Regions from separate parts of the Homo sapiens genome. Here region 1 is linked to region 2. Evidence: fine-mapped expression QTL. Tissue or cell type: whole blood. Region 2 holds a variant in brackets; the other region holds the start of a gene. All regions are shown on one strand. Distances are from middle to middle.

Region 1 (2,603 bases), 100 kb before region 2:
AGCTTTTAAAAAGTAAGACTTTATGAAGTGACTTTTACAAGTTATTTGAGGAGAGCTTTCATTCTAGTTTGTAGAATTAAGGCTATTTCAATTTATGAAATACAAAAAATTATTTGAAAGATACGTGTATCAGAAGGTATAGCTAAAATATGAAACTGATTACAGCCCCTGGAGTGCAAATGTGGTTTAAGGATCAGGACGGCCTTGAACATAACCTACTCATAATCAGATGGCAAGAATGACATCAGCTGGAGAACTCTCTTCCAAGACCTGGATGAAATCACAGCCCTCTAGCAACATCCACCTAGATCCATGTCTTACCTTATACTCAACTCCACTGTCAATATTATTTTCCCCAAGGAAAAAGTAAAAAATGAAAGCACAACACTAATCTTCTGTCTCCACAGGATGTGGCAAAATGAGAAATAACAATTACATTTTATTTTCAAAGGTGGCCCACGGCTGAAGCACTCGGACCTTACACTAAAGCGAAATTTTCCAGCAGTCACAAGATCCAGTTCTTTCACAGCCGACTAATAAAAAAGTAAAAGAATCGACATTAAGCTGCGCCCAAACAGGCCAGGAATGGGACCTAAGGCGTCACGAAACTTCCCGAGGACATTATGTATTTAGAGAAGGCCCCACAGAAACCCTCAAGTGGGAAAGCTATGTCTCCCGGGTCTCGGGGTGGCAGGCAGCCTGAACCCCGAGAGGTTCGAGGCAAGGCGCCCCCGGCCGGATTCGGGCCCAAACCAGCCCGCCACGCCCTGAGCTCCGCGCAGCAAACCTGCCGGCCGAGCGGCGGCCCTCGGAATGGTGTTTTCTCGGCGCTACAGGAGGGAGAGCGACCCAGAGAACTTGGGCCTGGCAAAGGCCGGGAACCAGGCAGGCGCGGGTGGGGAGAGGAAAGCAAACGTCGCGGGAGAGCGCGGCCCAGAGGCCGAGGAGGGCGCGAGCGGAGCCGGCCCGAGCCCGCCGCTGCAGTTTACAGTTCCCGTCGCGGCCCAGGAGACAGCAGCCACCGGGGCAGAAAGAGCCCAGCCACCCTCGTCACGACCCGCACCTCCGCCTCACCTGGACTTGCCCACCCCACTCTCGCCGATGATGAGGATCTTCAGGGTGGTTAGCACGTCCTCGTCCATCCTGACCCCGTTCCGCTCCGAGCCCAGCTGGCCGCCCGGGTGCGCCTCTCAGCCCTTCAGCAGAGTGAGCTGCTGCGCATGCGCGCCGCTCCACGTCTGCCACCTTCCTTTCACACCGGGTGTTCAGGCTGCCGAAGCCCTGGACTCCCCAGTTCCGCCTTGAGGTAGCTCCACGGCTGCGCGACCCAGAATCCCCGGCGTTTTTCCGGACTGCGTGTTCCTCCCCTGCGCAAGCGCAGGTGGGGAGCGCTGTGTGTGACTTTGTTGGCTTCTTCTTGAGGTCTAGCTCCGCCCCAGCCTCAACCTAACCCTCCTTTTGAGTCAGTGGGAGGACTCAGTCAGGAGAATATCAAGCTGTTTTATTTCGGCAGCTGCTCATAACAGCTGCACTGCGGTGGGAAAAGCACTGTGCTTGAAGCAGATTATCTTAAATTTAGGTCCAGCTCTACCTTATAACTGCCTTGTCATACTACCCAGCTTTCTTAGCCTTTCTCCATCTCTGAGAGACACAGTAACACTTCTTAGAACATCTGCTTCTTATTGTTATGAAGGTTAAGTGAGTTAATTTGTGAAGACATGTTGTTAACCAAAGTGCTCTATAAAAGGTGTGATCAGGTATTATCTTGCTGGCTTCCCCTCTGTTATAGTGGAGAGCACCCTCTGCACCCTAATTCATCTTGAAAGGGAGGCGTAGACTTCAGGTAGGTCAGGTGCATTACTTCTGGCGGTGCAACTTCAAGTCAACTCTCCTTCCTCATAAGAACTGCTACACCCATACTGCAGGAAGTGTATGTCTACACCTTGCCTCCTGCATTAAGTTGTAAATCTTAGTGAAGGTACCAAACCTCATTCATAATACTTAGCACAGTGCCTGGTACATGGCAGGCACTCAATAAACCTCAGTTCTCTTGTCTTATTTCCTTATACCTGCAGCTAATGTCATATACAATGGATATTTGATTAAAGACTACATATAAATAAAATTTCAAATGTTAAGAAATTAATTTGTTAAATAGCTGGAAAAGCCCTTTCAAAAGATATCCCAATGGCTTCTCCTCCTTCAGGTCTTCGCTCAAATGTTGCATTCTTAAAGAGGCCTTCCCTGTCCATTCTACTGAAATATGCAAATCCCTCCAGCATTCTCTAGACCTCTTTACATTGTTTTTCTGCATAGGATTTAACCACTCTCTGATACACTATATATTTTACTACTTTATTAGAAGTCTCATGAAGGCAAGGATATTTTGTTTTGTCTACTGGTATGTCTTCAGTATCTAGAGTACTTCATGGCACATAATATGTGCTAAATAAATGTATGCTGAATGAATTAATTGAATGAATGTTGTAGAGTCCATTCCTAACCTTAGAGAATAATGTCAATGAAACAACCTCCACTTCTCATCAGATAGCCCTTGAAACTTCAGTCAAGTCTATCTAGCTTACTTTTCATTATGACAAAAA
Region 2 (2,758 bases):
TCTTCTCTGGCTTTGAATATGAAACTGATCCTTCTGCAAGTATTGGTTTGTTTGGTGTTTTTTCTTTTTTGAGATGGAGTCTCACTCTGTCACCCAGCCTGGAGTGCAATGGCGCAATCTCGGCTCACTGAAACCTCTGCCTCCCAGGTTCAAGCGATTCTCCTGCCTCAGCCTCCTGAGTAGCTGGGATTACAGGCATGCACCACCACACCTGGCTTATTTTTGTATTTTTAGTAGAGGCGGGGTTTCACCATGTTGGACAGGCTGGTCTCGAACTCCCGACCTCAGGTGATCCGCCCACCTCAGTCTTCCAAAGTGCTGGGATTACAGGCGTGAGCCACCGCACCCGGCTGCCTGCAAGTGCTTTTGTAAGTTCCCTGGACACTTCTCGCTCCCTCTCTTTCCTTATCACAGAGGGTCTCATGTCCGTTCTGGGTGGAGCTTCCTAGACAGTTCTAGGACATATCCCCATTTTGCCTGTCTCACACACTCTCATATATGAAGGTTATACCTTGCATACCTGCCTTTAGCTCATTTAAGACACTTACTGAAACATATTTCAGGGTTCTATATTTATTGTCTTGCAATGAAGTCATTTAAATAAGACTTTTTCAAAAGTCTGTGCTCTAAATTGAACTCAATTATAGCTCATGCTATTTTATGTATAGTAATCCCCTGCTTTTCCACAGGAATACTATCCAAGACATACAACGGATGCCTGAAACCACAGATAGTCCTGAACTTTATTTATATCTAGCCAAAGTCTCTATAATCAATACTATACTTCACTCCCCTATCCTCTGAAAAATTCACACCTAAGAAATCCAGAAACTCAAAAGGAGGAATGGGCATAACCTTGTCATATATACCTTTTATCCTTTTATCCAAAATCTTTCTGATTTTGAAATTCATCTCTTTTACTTTCTTATCTTAAACTCCTATAAACCAATATTGTTGTTTTAAGAACGTATTATATTAGGCCGGGCACAGTGGCTCATGCCTGTAATCCCAGCACTTTGGGAGGCCGAGGCAGGCGGATCACCGGAGTTCAAGACCAGTCTGGCCAACATGGTGAGACCCCATCTCTACTAAAAATACAAAATTAGCCAGGTGTGGTGGCACATGCCTGTAATTCCAGCTACTCAGGTGGCTGAGGCAGGAGAATCACTTGAACCCGGGAGGCAGAGGTGGCAGTGAGCTAAGATTGCACCATTGCACTCCAGGCTGGGTGACAGAGTGAGACTCCAGCCTGGGCAAAAAAAGCAAAAGTCTGTCTCAAAAAAAAAAAAAAA[A/GAAA]GAAAGAAAGAAAGAAAGAAAGAAAGAATTATAGTAAGAGATTTTATTATAACAAAGCAATTTACTTTTGCCCTGGAATTTATATGTGTATGTGTGTTGAGTTGGGGCCCCGACCTTAATTCATAGTACCAGGTTAAGAAAAAGTGAAATACAATAACAGTATAGACATTTTATTAAGAAGAAGAATTTTATCTATTTAAATGTGATCTCCCCTGCAGGTCTTCAGTCATGTTCCTGCTGTTTTGAAACCAGTGGCTCCAGTTCTTCAGCTCCTAGACTAAAATTCCAAACTTAGTTTCTCTCCCCTACTAAAATATCTGAATGCAGGTATCAGTCATTTGTTTTGAAGCAATTTCTAACAAGCAAAATCTAAAACCAGAGGTTGTTGCCAATCTTTTAAAAGGTAATGTTATGGTTGCTGAGGAGGTAAAGCACTGAATCATGCTTTAAAATATTTTGTATATAGTCCTGTTTCTGTTGGTTTGCCAAGGAAACAGGCACAGTTTGGGTCATTTAAAATATAGCACATTTTAATTTTTTCCAAATTCGTAGCAACTTTTCCACAGAGCCCACTTCACCAGTAGAGAAGAATCCTGAAAGTAACTTAAAAGACTTTCCTACTTTATGTTAACAACAATACACATTGTACTAACTTTGAAATACAGGAGGCATTTAATGTTGTGTTATGGCTAGTTAGAGACCAGGGATGGATAAAAAGATAATTGGATCTATGTTCTTTCTCTAGTACAGCTTGCTCTTCATTATCTGTTATATTCCATTCACACCCTTCTGAAGATCAGAGTGGAATTAGCCATTAGCAGTGTTTTAGTAATTCTTTGTGGTTCCAAAATGCTAGTCAGTGACTTAGTGCTTGGCTGGCTGCAAAGAATCACATATAGCAGAGTCGGTAGAAGTACAGATTTACAGATTTCTAACTTTTCTGCTCCCTTTCTTTCCTTTTTTTTTTTTCAGTTGTTCTGAGATAGTCCCTGGGAATTAAAGGTCTCCAGCAGATATGTGTGGAAATTACTGTCTTAGAGATTTATGACTAGGTGTCCAAGTCAAGAATGTTATCCATTGATGAAAGCTACCACCACAAATTCCATGATTTTTCCCTCCAAATTTACAGGTTTGACTGCATACGAAACAAAATGTGTGTTGCGGCCTTTGGAGTGATTTCTGCTTTCTTGGCAGTGGTGAGCGGCTTTGGCCTGCTGTTGCACATTGGGGTGCCATTTGTCATCATAGTTGCCAATTCACCATTTCTTATTCTAGGTGAGTAAAACAAAACGGGAGGCTGCACACCGTGTATGTGGTGGGGTAGGGGATATATATAAGGGAAAGAATTGTATTAAGGTGGCTCTACAGTTCAAAAATGAGGTGCCAGGAAACAGGGAAATGAAATTGAACTGGATATCTCTAGAGGTGGAAAGATCGAGTATCCTAATGGAAAAACAGACCATGTA

Evidence for each region. PIP is the estimated chance that this variant, and not a neighbour inherited with it, causes the effect.
Region 1: it holds the start of RAB18, and the variant in region 2 is fine-mapped to the expression of RAB18 in whole blood (INTERVAL, PIP 0.98).

What each region holds. Positions count from the first base shown.
Region 1 is chr10:27,502,909-27,505,511 of GRCh38, reverse strand. RAB18 (RAB18, member RAS oncogene family) reads right to left here and starts at 1,208. Exons shown (of 7, transcript NM_021252.5): 1 at 1,075-1,208. The coding sequence starts at 1,142. It overlaps LOC124902399 (a long non-coding RNA gene), which reads right to left and starts at 1,067. Exons shown (of 2, transcript XR_007062097.1): 1 at 788-1,067; 2 at 420-533. RefSeq lists enhancers at 1,073-1,132, 1,243-1,512.
Region 2 is chr10:27,403,021-27,405,778 of GRCh38, reverse strand. PTCHD3 (patched domain containing 3 (gene/pseudogene)) reads left to right here. Exons shown (of 4, transcript NM_001034842.5): 3 at 2,422-2,567. Among named protein-coding and RNA genes, the nearest start is that of PTCHD3, 9.9 kb to the left of the region's middle. The variant A/GAAA (reference allele first, on the strand shown) is at 1,293.